2 separate regions of the Homo sapiens genome follow, and region 1 is linked to region 2. A link means that fine-mapping ties the variant in region 2 to the expression of a gene that starts in the linked region. Tissue or cell type: Th17 cells. Region 2 holds a variant in brackets; the other region holds the start of a gene. All regions are shown on one strand. Distances are from middle to middle. Region 1 holds the start of CWF19L1 (CWF19 like cell cycle control factor 1). Region 2 overlaps CHUK (component of inhibitor of nuclear factor kappa B kinase complex).

What was found. PIP is the estimated chance that this variant, and not a neighbour inherited with it, causes the effect.
Region 1: CWF19L1 starts here. The variant in region 2 is fine-mapped to the expression of CWF19L1 in Th17 cells (Schmiedel 2018, PIP 0.95).

What each region holds. Positions count from the first base shown.
Region 1 is chr10:100,263,273-100,271,613 of GRCh38, forward strand. It overlaps CWF19L1 (CWF19 like cell cycle control factor 1), which reads right to left and starts at 4,366. Exons shown (of 14, transcript NM_018294.6): 1 at 4,299-4,366. The coding sequence starts at 4,321. RefSeq lists an enhancer at 2,097-2,346.
Region 2 is chr10:100,208,900-100,217,240 of GRCh38, forward strand. CHUK (component of inhibitor of nuclear factor kappa B kinase complex) reads right to left here. Exons shown (of 21, transcript NM_001278.5): 10 at 696-890. Among named protein-coding and RNA genes, the nearest start is that of CHUK, 17 kb to the right of the region's middle. The variant CA/C (reference allele first, on the strand shown) is at 4,101.

The sequences.
Region 1 (8,341 bases), 54 kb after region 2:
TTCTTAACTGAACTGGCAATTTGATTACTCTCTGCCTCTGTCATTCCCTAGGGTAGTTCCACCCTACCCATCCTAAATCCAAGTTTTTCCCATCCTTCAAGGTTTAGCACATTTCTGAAGCCTTCCTGGCTGGCTCAGAAGTCATTACCTTCTCAAAAACTCAGAAAACCACATTACAGCATTTCAGAGAAAGCTTTGTCATAAACTAATATGACTTTTATTTATATTTTGAGCACCACCTCCTCTAGGAAGCCTTCTAGTACCTATCAGTTACCAATTTCTAGTGTTCCCATAGGAGCCTGCATTTCTTCCATCACAGCAGTTGTCACACGGAATTACCATTGTCTCTGGGAGATCCACTGTCCAGTTTATACATCACCAGGTGCCTCATCTCCTCATCTGGGCCCTTTTCCACTGTTCTCTATCCCACTGAATAAAGATAGAAATCTATGACCCAACAAGGCCAGCTCCTTTTCACTCACAATTAAACCATCACAAGCCTTGTTGATTTTACTTCCTTAATAAACCCTGAATCCCTAAACTATTCCTCTGTCATCACTCTACCTAATCCCAGCTGTTCTCTACTTTGGCTCTGATTTGTTCTCCACATTGCAGACAGAACTGCTTTCCAAAATGAAAATTTGATCATGCCAAAGCGTTCTTAAGCATTTCAATAACCTTTTTAGGTTAAAGACAAGAATACAGTTACGTGCCACATAACAATGTTTCGGTCAACAAGGGACCACATATGTAATGGTGGTCCCATAAGATTATAATGGAACTAAAAAATTCCTATCGCCTAGTGATGTCTAGCCATTTGTAACATCATAGTGCAATATATTACTCATTTGTTTGTGGTAATGCTGGTATAAACCTACTGGGCTGGTGGTTATAAAAAGTGTAGCACATACAGTTATGTACAGTATACAATATTTGATAATGATAATAAACAACTATGTTACTGGTTTATGTATAATATTTAGCATGCTATGGCCAGGTGCGGTGGCTTACGCCTGTAATCCCAGCACTTTGGGAGGCCAAGGCGAGCGGATCACAAGGTCAGGAGCTCGAGACCATCCTGGTTAACACAGTGAAACCTCATCTCTACTAAAAATACAAAAAATTAGCCGGGCGTGGTGGCGGGCGCCTGTAGTCCCAGCTACTCAGGAGGCTGAGGCGGGAGAATAGCATGAACCCACGAGGCAGAGCTTGCAGTGAGCTGAGATCGCGGCACTGCACTCCAGCCTGGGCAACAGAGCAAGACTCCATCTCAAAAAAAAAAAAATATATTCAGTATGGTATGCTCTTTACTGTTTAGAGTACACTCCTACGTATTCAAAAAAAAAAAAAAAAAGTTGACTGTAAAAAAGCCTCAGGCAGGTCCTTCAGGAAGTATTCCAGAGGGCACTGTTATCATAGGAGATGACAGCTTCATGCATGTTATTACTACTGAAGCCCTTCCAGTGGGACAAGATATGGAGGTGAACAGCAGTGATACTGATGATCCTGACCCTGTGTAGGCCTAGACTCGTGTGTGTGTCTTAGTTTGCAACAAAACAAGTTTAAAGCCAGGCACAGTGGCTCACGTCTGTAATCCCAGCACTTTGGGAGGCTGAGGCAGGAGGGTAACTTGAGCCCAGGAGTTCAAGACCAGCCTGGGTAACATAGCAAAACCCCCTCTCTACAAAAAATACAGAAATTAGCCAGGTGTGGTAGCTTCCGCCTGTAGTCCCAGCTACTCAGGAGGCTGAAGTGGGAGAATCACTTGAGCCCAGGAGGTTGAGGTTGCAGTGAGCCGTGATTGCACAATTGCACTCCAGCCTGGGCGACAGTGAGACCCTGTCTCCAAAAAAAAAAAAAGTTTAAAAGGTAAAAAGAAAAAAAAAGTAATAGAAAAAAGCTTGTAGAATAAGGATATAAAGAAAATATTTTTGTACAGCTGTACAATGTGTTTTATGTCTTAGCTGTGTTATAACAAGAGTCAAAAAGTGTAAAAAAACTTAAAGTTTATAAAGTAAAAGTTACAGTAAACTAAGGTTTACTGTTGAAAATAATATTTTAATAAATTTAATATAGGTGAAGTGTACAGTATTCATAAAGTCTACAATACTGTAAAGTAATACATTCACTCACCTCTTACTAACTCACTCAGAGAAACTTTCAGTTCTGCAAACTCCATTCATGATAAGTGTCCTACACAGGTTGTGCCCTTTTTTTTTTTCCTGTATACAGTATTTTCTTTTTTTCTTTTTCTTTTTTTTTTTTTTTGAGACAGTCTCGCTCTGTCGCCCAGGCTGGAGTGCAGTGGTGCGATCTCGGCTCACTGCAACCTCTGCCTCCCAGGCTCAAGCCATTCTCCTGCCTCAACCTCTTGAGTAGCTGGGATTACAGGCGCCCGCTACCACACCCGGCTAATTTTTGTATGTTTAGTAGACACAGGGTTTCACCATGTTGGCCAGGCTGGTCTTGAACTTCTGACCTCAGGTGATCCACCCACCTCGGCCTCCCAAAGTGTTGGGATTACAGGCATAAGCCACCACACCCGGCCAGGTGTTTTCACTGTACCCTTTCTATATTTAAATACAAAAATGCTTACCATTGTGTTACAATTGCCTACAGTATTCAGTACAGTAACTTGACGTACAGCTATACCATTTAGCCTAGGTGTACAGGAAGCCATACCATCTAGGTCTCTGGAAGTACACTCAAAGATGTTCGCACAATGACGAAATCGCCTACCAACTCATTTCTCAGAACATAACCCTGCTGTTAAGCAATGGATTACTCTTATTTCCCAAGGCTCAATCCTAACATTCTCGGGAAGCCTTCTTGACTCCTATCATTAAGCCAAATACCCCTCTTATGCACTCTCCCAGATTCACGAATATTTTCTTCCCAAAAGTTACCACTATTGCAATTTTTTTTTTTTTTTTTTTGAGACAGGGTTTCAATCTGTCACCCAGCCTGGAGATCAGCAGCACGATCACAGCTCACTGCAGCATCGACCTCCCCAGGCTCAGGTGGTCCACCTGCTTCAGCCTCCCAATTAGCTGGGACCACCACGCCCGGCTAATTTTTTTTTTTTTCTGTATTTTTTGTAGAAACGGGGCCTTGCTATATTGCCCAGGCTGGTCTTGAATTCCTGGACTCAAGTGATTCTCTTGCCTTGGCCTCCGGAGTCGCTGGGATTATAGGCGTGAGCCACTGCGCCTGGCCCTATCACTATGGTAACTTTACATTTATCTGAATTCCTTTTTTTTTAGACGGAGTCTCACTCTGTTACCTAGGCTGGAGTGCAGAGGTGCAGTGTCGGCTCACTGTGCAACCTCCGCCTCCGGGTTCAAGCGATTCTCCTGCCTCAGCCTCCCAAGTAGCTGGGATTACAGGCACGCGCCACCACGCCTGGCTAATTTTTTTTTTTTGTATTAGTAGAGACGGGGTGTCACCACGTTGGCCAGGCTGGTCTCGAACTCCTGACCGCAAGTGATCCGCCCGCCTCAGCCTCCCAAAGTGCTAGGATTACAGGCGTGAGCCACCGCGCCCGGCCATTATTTGTATTGTTTTTTGTTTGTTTTGTTTTGTTTTGTTTTGTTTTGAGAGTCTCGTTCTGTCGCCCAGGCTGGAGTGCAGTGGCGCGATCTCGGCTCACAGCAACCTCCGCCTCCCGGGTTCAAGCGATTCTCCTGCCTCAGCCACCGCGCCCGGCCCATTATCTGGATTCTTTAGTACCTGTTCCTCTAGACTCTACGCTCCATTAAAGCAGGAACTCCATCTGTTGCAACACCTAGCACAGCGTCCGGCACACTGCAGTTCTTCAATAAATACTTGCTGCATGAAGCCCTCTCTTCACCACCACCCCCACCCCTCCTCCTCGCAAAAAAAAAAAAAAAAAAAAAATGCCCCAGGGAAGGGTCCCTATCTACTCTGTCCACCACTGCCCAGGGCCCATCAGTGGGCCCAATGGCTATTTGGCGAGTAAATAAATGGGGTCAGGAGAAACGAAGGGGAAAGGATGTGTCAGAGGCCAGGACTGCCCCCTAAGATGGAGGAGGCCTAACTCTGGGAGCTTCCGCCTCTCCGAACGAGCGTCGCCAAGAGAAACCCCCTCAGAAGCGAAAAGGGCCAGGAAAAGAGGTCAGCCCCGGCCAGGCAAAGACATCACCTAAGCTCCCCAGCAGCCCCGTGTCTCTCCGCCTTTTCCTTCTCCCTTCCCGTCATGGGAAAGACTCCCGCCCGTGTCGTCACCTACACACACGAAAGAGACACAGGGAGAGAGGCTTCCATTCACGGTCACTCACAGGCGCAGCGGTTTCTGTGCCATCTGTCCGAATAGTATGGGTTGCGACTGCCACCTAAAATTGGGAATGCGAATCCGCGCTCCCCGGAAAAATGCGACCGCGCAACAATCAGACGTCAGCGCCCTCCAGCCAATAACGGTTCACTTACTTACGGAGACCGCCGAGGGACAGAAGCCTCTCTCAGGTGTTTGCGCCTCAAGGAAGAATCAAGAGGGAAAGGGAGGAACGAAGGGAGAAAGAGAAAGTGACCGAAAGGATTCCAACTATGATTTTTTAAATTAAATTTCAGAGCACTTGAAGCGAATGAATGGCTAGGAAGTACAGAGCACAATGTCGGGTTCTAACCTAACCTAACCTAACCTAACCTAACCTAACCATATCGGTCTAGTGGGCAAGACAGACCCCCTCTATCCACGTTTTTTGTAAGTTTTTAACCTATCAAAAAGTTAAGAGGCCGGGCGTGGACGCTCACGCCTATAATCCCAGCACTTTGGAAGGCTGAGGCGGGCGGATCACTTGAGGTCGGGCGTTCAAGACCAGCCTGGGCAACATGGTGAAACCCCGTCTCTTCTAAAAATACAAAAATTAGCCGGGCATGGTGGAGAATTGCTTCAACCAGGGAGGCGGGGGTTGCAGTGAGTCAAGATCGCGCCATTGCACTCCAGCCTGGACAACAAGAGCGAAACTCCGTCTCAAATTAAAAAAAAAAAAGTTAAAAGAATAATGGCTATTACCTTGATTCAGTAAGTCTCAGCATGTTGGCAAATTTGCTTGTGTTCTCTTTCTCTCAAAGTGCCCAAGCCCTTCCATTCTCACTCAATCATTTGAAAGTAAAGTACAGGCCGGGCGCAGTGGCTCACGCCTGTAATCCCAGCACTTTGGGAGATCCAGACCATCCTGGCTAACACGGTGAAACCCCCTCTCTACTAAAAATACAAAAAATTAGCCGGGCGTGGTGGCACGCACCTGCAGTCCCAGTTACTCGGGAGGCTGAGGCAGGGGAATCGCTTGAACCCAGGAGGAGGAAGTTGCAGTGAGCCGAGATCGCGCCACTTCACTCCAGCCTGGGCGACAGAGCGAGACTCCGTGTCAAAAAATAAAATAAAATAAAGTGCGGACAACAGGAATACATCTCCATTTATCTCCTAAGATTAGGATATCCTCCTACATAACCGTAATACTATTAACACAGCTAAGAAAATTAACATTAATTATTCAATAATATTACCTAATATACATCCATATTTAAAGTTCTCCATATTTCCCTACAAACTGATTTTATATTTGGGGCTTGTTTTGATTCAGATGCAATCAAGTTTCACACTTGCATTTGGTTCTGTCTCTATTTTAATCTACAAAAGCCCTCCTACCTATTTGGTTTTAGTTTTTGTAATATTGACTTTTTTGAAGGGTTCAGGCCAAGTGGTAGGAAACAAGTGTGTAAGGAAATGGAAACAAGAGAGAGTTCCTGACGACTGCGGGGAAAGGAAGACTCATCAAGGGCATCTAAATAATTCAAAATTAATAAAACATAAGATTAAAGAAGAACTACAGGCCAGGCACAGTGGCTCATGCCTGTAATCCCAGCACTTTGGGAGGCTGAGGCGGGAGGTTCACTTGAGAACAGGAGTTCAAGGCCAACCTGGGCAACATAGCCAGACCTCGTCTCTACTACAAATTTAAAAAGAAAAAAAAAAAAGTTAGCTGGGCATGGTGGCCGTATGCCTGTACTCCCAGGTACTCCAGAGGCTGAGGTGGGGAGATCACTTGAGCCCAGGAGATGGAGGCTTCAGCGAGCTATTACCTTGCCACTGCACTCCAGCCTGGGTGACACAGCAAGCCCTGTCTCAATAACCAAACAAAACTACAAAGTTCTGGCTTTTCCCACAGCCTACAAGCCTTCTTTTTTGTTTGTTTCTTGCCTCATAACTGGTGGCTCTGCTTTGCTGGCACATAAGCATGCATTTTTTCCTACTCTTTGGATAATACAGCACTGCCCAGGAGTAGCACTCAAGACTGAATCTTGAAGAAGAGTAGAAGTTTGCCAAACATGAGCAGGTAATAATTCCCAGAAGAGGATACAAAAGTAAGACATAAAAACTCATCGTATTGAAAAATCAAAAGACTCCACGAAAAAGACTGTTAGAAATAATAAACGAATTCAGTAAAAGTTTCAGGATACCAAATCAACATACAAAAATCAGTAGCATTTATATGCACCAACAGTAAACAATCTGAAAAAGAAATCAAAAAAGCAATCTCATTTACAACAGCTACAAAGAATATAAACTACGTAGGAATCAATTTAACTAAAGAAATGAAAGATCTATACAAGGAAAACTATACAATACTGATGAAAGAGGACACACACACAAAAAGGAAAGATATTCCACGCTTATGGATTAGAAGAATTAGGCGGGCAGATCACGAGGTCAGGAGATCGAGACCTTCCTGGCTAACACGGTGAAACCCCGTCTCTCCTAAAAATACAAAAAAATTAGCCAGGCGTGGTAGCGGGCGCCTGTAGTCCCAGGTACTCGGAAGGCTGAGGCAGCAGAATGGCATGAACCCGCGAGGCAGAGCTTGCAGTGAGCGGAGATCCAGCCACTGCACTCCAGCCTCTAGCCTGGGCAACAGAGCGAGACTCCGTCTCAAAAAAAAAAAAAAGAAAGAAAGAAAAAAGACAACACTACCTAAAGCAATTTACAGATTCAGTCCAATCCCCATCAAAATACAAATGGCATTCTCTAGATAGAGCAAGGATCCCCAACCCCCGGGCTATGGACCAGTACCCATCAGAAACCAGGACGCACAGCAGGAGGCGAGCGGTGGGCAAGTGAGAATAACCGCCTGAGCTCACTTCCTATCAGATTAGTGGTGGCATCAGATTCTTACAGAGGCTGGAACCCTATTGTGAACTGCACATGCGAGGGTTCTACGGCGCTGCGTACCTTACAAGAATCTGATGCCTGATGATCTGAGGTGGAACAGTTTCATCCCCAAACCATCCCCCCATCCCTACTTTCAGCTCTCTTTTTCTAATGTAAATGTCATGTACGAGCGTTTGTTTTTTTTGTTTTGTTTTGTTTTGTTTTTGTTTTTGTTTGAGACTGAGTCTCGCTCTGTCGCCCAGGCTGCAGTGCAGTGGCGCGATCTACGCTCACTGCAAGCTCCGCCTCCCGGGTTCACGCCATTCTCCTGCCTCAGCCTCCAGAGTAGCTGGGACTACAGGCACCCGCCACCATGCCTGGCTAATTTTGTTTTTGTATTTTTAGTAGAGACGAGTTTTCACCGTGTTAGCCAGGATGGTCTCGATTTCCTTGACCTCGTGATCCGCCCGCCTCGGCATCCCAAAGTGCTGGGATTACAGACGTGAGCCACCGCGCCCGGCCACAATAGTTTTATTTGACGTCAGGACTGTTTTGTAGACCGAGGTGTGATAGATGTGGCACGCACCAGCCACGGTTTCCACCGTCCCCAGAGCGTGGAGAGGCAGCGCCACTGCTCTCAAGGTTAATGACAACTCAATAAAGCACTGCTTTTATTTTTTGCAGTCTTCAATTTGAGAAAGGCCAGAAATAATGTTTTCAATAAATATGGTTCATACCATTAAAAAAAAAAATCCCCCCGCGTCCACGGAAAAATTGTCTTCCATAAAAGCGGTCCCTGGTGCCAAAAAGATTAGGGACTGCTGCTCTACAGAAATAGAAATAGAAAAAACAATCCTAAAATCTATATGGAACCACAAAAGACCCCAAAGAGCCAAAGCAATCCTGAGCAAAAAGCACAAAGCTGAAGGCATCATACTGCCCAACCTCAAAATCTACTACAAAGCTATGGTAACCCAATCAGTATGGTACTGACATAAAAATAGACACATAGACCAATGGAACATATATAAATCCATGCATTTACAGCCAACTCATTTTATGTCAATACCAAAAGTACAAAGGTGCCAAGAACATTCAATGAGGAAAGGACAGTCTCTTCAATAAATGATTCTTGGAGAACTGGATAGCCCTATACTGAAGAATGAAACTCAA
Region 2 (8,341 bases):
TTCTTAACAGGACCCGTTCAGAATTAAATAAGTTTTATTGGGGGTCTGAAGAAACCCCAGGCCTCCACAAACAAGTTTATTGGGGGTCTGAAGGAACTCCTTAAACCTCTGTGATTTAATAGGAGACAAGATAAGGGTAATCACCCCAGCACCTGGACCCATTTAGAGTAAGTAAATTTACTGAGGCTCCAGAGGAATGTCTTCAAGACTCAGACCTCAGCTACAGATTAAAAGAAGTTAATCACTTATGTCTTTAGATGAATGCAAACTTACACATAGACATATAGCTTAGAAGATAAATAAACTACGGAAAAACTTTGTAATTTTGAGTTGGTCTGGCGGTAATTTCCAGGCCTTCTACCTGTAACTGGTTACAGAAATAAAAACTCCCATCTCTCCCAATTCATCTGCATCTCGTTATTGGGCCGCGAGAGTAAGCAGCCTGACCCTCAGTTTGGTCTGGGAACAGGAGCAGAAAACTGGCACCAAAGAAAAAGTCTTGCAAAGTTCAAAACAACAAATGTTTCATTTCTATCCTGTTCACCTTGCAAAGCAATGATAAGAGTTGGGAGAAGGACAAAACCAAAACAAAATGTGCGGCCTCCCAAGGAATTCCAAGTATGCATAAAAATTGCAGGGCACGCAATCCCTCTAGATTTCACATACTCTAGGGATATTATAATTAATTTTCTTACAACTCCATCTAGAACACATTGAGAGGCTGGTTTCCGAGGATCCAGAGAAATTCCTGTCTCTGAAAGAAGTTCTTGAGAACCAGTATTTATTCCAGTTTCACGCTCAATACGAGACTGTAGTGAATGAAGACTTTCATCAGGTGGTAACAGAAAAGAAATTATCTTTGCAGAAGTCATATTTAGGATGTGTACTATCTGTATAAATAAGAAAAAAAGGTAAAGTTATTGATTATTTGTTACATAAAAGATTCGCTGCCAGATACTAAAAGGTGAATATGGGCAAAAGGCATTATTTCTACATTAAACAAGGCTCACTCATTCTCCAAAGTGAGATCTCCTTTTATAATTATAAAATGACATTCTGAAAACTGAACAATTTCCTTTTCTACAATAGATGTTAGTTCCAACAATAAAATTTCAAAGTTAAGAAATTTTCAAAATTAAGAAAAATCCCAATTTGAAAGAACAAGTTATTTATTTATTTATTTATTTATTTATTTTTTTTTTTTTTGAGACGGAGTCTCGCTCTGTCGCCCAGGCTGGAGTGCAGTGGCGGGATCTCGGCTCACTGCAAGCTCCGCCTCCCGGGTTCACGCCATTCTCCTGCCTCAGCCTCCCAAGTAGCTGGGACTACAGGCGCCCGCCACTACGCCCGGCTAATTTTTTGTATTTTTAGTAGAGACGGGGTTTCACCGTTTTAGCCGGGATGGTCTCGATCTCCTGACCTCGTGATCCGCCCGCCTCGGCCTCCCAAAGTGCTGGGATTACAGGCGTGAGCCACCGCGCCCGGCCTAAGTTATTTATTTTGAAAAAAACATTATCATAGACCGAAAAGGAAACATTCCAATTCATGAAGTGCCTAACAGAAGACAACCACAGGCATAAACCACTTTCACATAACATCCCCAATAATTAGATCTTTTAATCTCCATTTTAAACAGAGAAAGAAACCAGAGTTCTAAGTTAAATAACTTGTTAGGGATCACACAGCTAATAACTGGTAGAGCTTGGATCTTAACTCTTTTTGTGTCTGGCTACTTCATGCTGCCTTAAGAAATCATCTGATAGAAGAACTAGGTCTCTCTTTAAACAGGAAAAAGCATTGTTATGCGTGGTGAGTTACCTTTTTATAAGACAACCTAATCCCAGAGCAGCAACCTGCTTAAGGGCCCCAAATCAAGTAAGAACCGTTTTATCACTCTCACCTAAAGCCCCAGTAAAAGTAGCCTGATACATGCCAAGTGAGTGTGAGGCTGAGTCAGGTGGGGCTCTGTCCCCACCTGTCAGCGCGGACAGCCACAGAGTTGGACTTCAGTCTTTTGAAAAGAACATGATTTTAAATTCTCTTCCTTCCAGTATCCTTAGAAAAGCCATACGAAATTAATGCCTACATTCTCCATGCCTTACATTGACTAGTATATGCAAATGATTAAAATTCTCTCTGCTGAAAATCCTTACTACAAAGGTAAGGCATTAATCCAAGTCCACTATTATTTTTTTCCCTTTAAAACACAAATCTGAATTGATGTTTTCAAAGACACAAAACTATAGACAACAGTACAATAAGCCCCCTCCCAACCCTGTGAATGCCTCACCTAGTTTCAACCATCATTTACATAGAGCCTATCTTGTTTCATCTATCATAACCCCCTCTCCTGATTTATTGCTTTATCTTTTACATATTTTATTTTGTGACAATTTAATTTGACATATAAAAATGTTATATATTTGAGTTATACAACTTGATGTTTTGATATACGTTGTGAAATTATCACATTTCAGCTAATTAATATATCTGTCACCTCTTCATAGTTGTCATTTTTGTACCTTTTTTTTCTTTTGCTGCCGTAATTTTTGGACCTTTTGATAAACATCTCTACATACACCCCCGCACCCGCATCCCTGCAGCCCCTGGCAACTATGATGCTATGGTCTGCTTCTATTAAATTTAACTATTATAGATTCCACATGTAAGTGAGATCACGCAGTATTTCTCTTTCTGTGACTTGCTTATTTTACTTAACATGTCCTCCAGGTTCATCCACATTGTCCTAAATGGCAGAATTTCCTTCTTTTTCTTAAGGTTGAATACTATTCCACTGTGTATATATACCACTTTTTCCCTATCCATTCATCTGTCAAAGGACATTTAGGCTATTTCCAGATCTTGACTATTGTGAATAATGCTGCAATGAACATGGGAGTGCAAATATCTCTTCACAAGCCTGCTTTAAAATCCTTTGGATATATACCAAGAAATGACATTGTTGAATCTTACAGTTCTATTTTTTTTTTTTTTCTTTTGAGACAGAGTCTTGCTGTGTCACGCAGGCTGATGTGCAGTGGCATGATCTCTCAGCTCACTACAACTTCCACCTCCTGAATTCAAGCAATTATCCTGCCTCAGCCTACGGAGTAGCTGGGATTACAGATGTGCACCACCATGCCCAGCTAATTTTTGTAATTTTAGTTGAGATGGGGTTTCTGCATGTTGCCCAGTCTGGTCTCGAACTCCTGGCCTCATGTGATCCACCTGTCTCAACCTCCCAAAGTGCTGGGATTACAGGCATGAGCCACCATGCCCGGCCAGTAGTTCTATTTTTAATTTTGAGGAACCTTTGTACTGTTTCCCACAATAGCTGTAATAATTTACATTCCCACCAACAGTGTACAAGGGATTTCTTTTCTCCCACATCCTCACTAACGCTTATCTTTTTTCTTTTGGATAATAGCCATCCCAACAGGTGGGGGGTGATATCTTAGTGTGGTTTTGATTTGCATCGCCCTGATGCTAAGAGTTGTTGAGCACCTTTTCATATGTTTGTTGACCATCTGAATTTCTTCTTTTGAGAAGTGTCTAATTCAGGTCCTTTGCACATTTTTAAATTGGGTTATTTACATTTTTGGTATTGAGTTGCATGAGTTTCTTATAAATTTAGGATATTAATTTCTTATTGGATGTATGGTATGCAAATATCTTTTCCCAATCCATGGGTTGGGTTGCTTTTTCGTTTTGTTGATTATTTTTTCTACTGTACACTTTTTAGTTTGAAGGCCCACTATTATTTCCACTTACAAATCCTAACACAGATGCCCAAATAAGTGGTGCTACAGAAATACTAAACTGAGGCTGGGCGTGGTGGCTCACGCCTGTAATCCCAGCACTTTGGGATTACAAGACAAGTAGATCACTTAAGGTCAGGAGTTCAAGACCAGCCTGGCCAACATGGTGAAACCTTGTCTCTACTAAAAACACAAAAATTAGCTGGGCTTGGTGGCACAACGCCTATAATCCCAGCTACTCAGAAGGCTGAGGCAGGAGAATCGCCTGAACCTGGGAGATCAAGGCTGCAGTGAGCCAAGATCGCGCCACTGCACTCCAGGCGACAGAGTGAGACTTTGTCT[CA/C]AAAAAAAAAAAAAAGAAAGAAGAAAAAGAAAAAAAAAGAAAAAAGAAAGGGATACTGAATATTCCCAACACAGAGAAATTATGTTTTAGCTGATGGATATGCTAATTACCCTAATCTGATCACTACACAGTGCATGTATTGAAACATCACTATTTACCCCATTAATTTGTATAATTATTTGTCAATTTAAAAAATTAGGCTGGGCGCGGTGGCTCACACCTGTAATCCCAGCCCTTTGGGAGGCCAAGACAGGTAGATCACTTGAGGACAGGAGTTTGAGAACATCCTGGCCAACATGGCAAAACCCTGTCTCTACTAAAAACACACAAAAAATTAGTTGGCCATGATGGCGCACACCTGTAATTCCAACTACGCGGGAGGCTGAGGCACGAGAGAATCACTTGAGTCTGGGAGGTGAAAGTTGCAGTGAGTGGAGATTGCACCATGGTACTCTAGCCTGGGTGATAGAACAAGACTCTTATCTCAAAAAAAAAAAAAAAAATTAAAAGCGTATTAACAATTTTGTTTGTTTGTTTTTGAGACAGAGTCTCTCTCTGTCACCCAGGCTGGAGTGCAGTGGTGCGATCTTGGTTCAATGCAGCCTCCACCTCCCAGGTTCAAGCAACTCTTCTGCCTCAGCCTCCCGTGTAGCTGGGACTACAGGCATGCACCACCATCCCTGGCTAATTTTTGTATTCTTAGTAGAGATGGGGTTTCACCATGTTGGCCAGGCTGGTCTCGAACTCCAGACCTCAAGTGATCTGCCTGCCTCCACCTCCCAAAGTGCTGGGATTACAGGCATGAGCCACCACACCTGTATCAACAAAATTTTAAAAAAGAAATACCAAACTGTTTTTATAACCTGAAGCTGATCCTTTTCATGTGAATTCCAAATGTCATAACACAATTGCCAGTATTTCTCTTATTAAGAGACTTTTCTTTAATATAAATCTTTATGTTTAAAAGGGGAGTAGGGAAATCTTCAAAACTGATACGGATTTGCAATACAATTATACTACCTGAGACTTTCCATGCCTTCCCAATTTAGGCAGATTTCACACTATGACAGCTGCCACTTATAGCAATAGAAAATCCTATAATGGACATCTACTTTTACACAGGATATTAGAGTATGTCATCATGGCATCTCACTACCAAAGCTCCAGGCCAGAAGGAAGCAAAAGAAAGAAGAGGAAATACAACCTAAATTTATCTTTTTGCTCACTATAATATTTAATGAGTACCTACTATTGGTAGGTACATACTATTGGTACATACTATTAAGTGTGTTGTGGTGGTAGTAGTGGGTATACAAACTGAGTACCTTATGATCCTTGCCTTCCATACAGTTATAGTCAAACAGAAGATATTAAGATATACTAAGAGAACTAAGGTACCAGGCAAAATGTGATAGGTGTTATAATCAGTGTAAAGTATCATACACTTGGCAGTAGGAAGCAGGCACTTCATAAAGGAGGCACTACTTGAGCTAAACTTTGAAATGAAAGACTGAAATGGGAAAAGACTGAAAAGAGTTCCTTTAGGCAGAAAACAAGGTGAGCAGAAGCAGAAAAGTAGAAAGGGATGGGCATAATCAGAGAATACAATTAATCCAGTTCAAATGTACCTAAAATGATGGCCTCTCAGGGCATTAGTAAGAGATAAGTCCAGGAGTGTAAGTTGATATGAAACCAAGATAGGTTTTGAGTACCAATGAAAGGGTCTGGACTTTATTCAATAAGTGAAAGAAAACTATGCAAGCCTTTCTAAATTGAGAACCTGGCAAGCTCAAAATTGTTAAGATATTCAAAAGATAAATTTGATAAAATAATTGGATATATCGATTGAAGAGAAAGGAAGAGTCAACACATCCAAAGTTTCCCACCTGGGTAACTGGAAAGGTGACAGTGCAAATAAGAAGTGTAGGAAATCTATAGAGGTAGATTTAATGGGCCAGGTGCAGTGGCTCATGCCTGTAATCCCAGCACTTTGGAAGGCCGAGGTGAGCAGATCACCTGAGGTCAGGGTGTCAAGACCAGCCTGGCCAACATGGTGAAACCCCATTTCTACCAAAAATATAAAAATTAGCTGGACACGGTGGCAGGCACCTGTAATCCCAGCTACTCGGGAGGCTGAGGCACGAGAATCACTTGAACCCAGGAGGTGTAGGTTGCAGTGAGTTGAGATCGTGAGACAGAGTGAGGCTCCATATCAAAAAAAAAAAAAAAAAAAAAAGAAGTAGATTTAATGGATAGAACAAATATGTTCAGTTTTTAATAAATTAAGTTGTAAGTGCCAGTGGAACAGCCAGGTAGTTATACAGTTATACAGCAGTTATAAGTCCTTGGCAGAAGAGTCACAGCTACAGAGATAAATAACTTTAGGAGTTAGCCATATGTAGTTTATAAGTAAAGCTATACAGTTGAAGAGGCTGCCTAATAAAAGAAAGGAAATGTAATGGAAAAAGAGAGAACCAAGAAGAGACTCAGAATATAGTTACATTTAGGGGCGTGAAAGAGGAGGCAAAAAAAAATAATAATTAAATGCTACTGTTTCATCATTATTTTTAGTGGTAGGTTCAGTACACTTCTTTCAACTCTTCTACATATCTAAAGATGTTCATAATAAACAGTTGGAAAATATGCATACAATCAGACTTGCTAAGCTATTTTTTCAAAAGGGAAATATTTCAGTAACTGTTTTGTTGCTTCCTTTTTTAAGTGAAAATCAAACAGACATCATTCCTTTCTTGTACAATATATATAAACATTTTGGGAAAATGTCCTACAGTAACACCAAGCTGTTTTGCAGTTCATGCTTCTGTACTTTTGCTCATGATGCTCTGCTGCCTATAAATCTCTCCCGCCCTCACCCTTTCCCTAAAAACTCTCATTCTTCAAAATTCAGTCCTATTATCATGTCTAACAAGCATCCTTGAAGCTTCTTGAACTACTATAACTAGTACCTTATACATACCTTATTCTGCATAACCTCATAATAATATTGATGCTTTGAGGAAGATATTACTGTCCTTGAGATAGAGAGACATTTGCTCAGGTTCACAGATAGGTAAATAGTGGTGCTGCAAACTGAATTAAAGTCTGTAAACTATAAACTCCATAATGTGGACTCTTTCCCCGTGCCCTATAACAAGAGGCTCACAGATGCCCTTCAGAGCAGAAACTATGCTATGATTCCTATGACAAGTATGAAACAAATGCGAGATGTGGTTCATTCACAGCTGAAATGTTTCAGAGGCAACACAGAACTAAAGCCCTGCTTTCCTAACACACTGAGGGATAATTTATTCTTTGGCACATTAGAAGGAAACCAAATCAAGAAGAAGCCAGGTATCTTTTCAGTGTTAGCCAAGAATGACATCCACATGGCCTCAAGTTTCTATTTAATAAAGTATGCCAAGGTCGGGCACAGTAGCCCACATCTGTAATCTCAGCACTTTGGGAAGTCGAGGTAGGAGGATTACTTGAGGCCAGGAGTTCAAAACCAACCTGCTCAACACAGTGAGACCCCATTTCTACCAAAAATTTAAAAATTAGGCAGGAGAGGTGGCGCACACCTGTAGTCCCATTTACTCTGGAGGCTGAAGCAGGAGAATCACTTGAGCTCAGGGGTTGCAGACTAAAGTGAGCTATCTCGCCATGTACTCCAACATTACATGATTATAATTTCTCATTTCAATTTTAGAAACCTGTATACTACAAACAATCAATACAAATGTAAAGACTATTGATGAGAGTTGTTTCTGGGTACACTGCATAATAGAACTATCTATAGCTCTCATTCATATCAATAAATAATTTACTAAGAACCTGATACATGCCCTGCTCTGTACAGAATGCCATGGTTAGGAAGGGTAGGGTGGGTGATTGTTAATAAAAGAAGTAAAACAATCCCAACATTGAAGAAGACAACAGTCTATATGAAGATGCATGAATGGAAGACGAGAAAGAGAATATAGCCTTTAAATGACAAATTTTGTGGCAGAGACCATTTAAAGAAAAGCTCTTAAAGATATGCCAGTGTAGGTGAGAAGATACACAGAAATGGATATCCAGGCAGAAGGATAGCATCTGTCAAAGCACAAAGGTAGATAACGGGTTTGAGGCATAAGGAGCAGTGACAAGCTGGTCTTGTATGAGGTAAAGGTTAAGAGAAGCAGGTACAAGGCAAAACTTGGTTAGGGAAAGCCCCCCCAAAAAACCAAGCAGATCAGTTTAC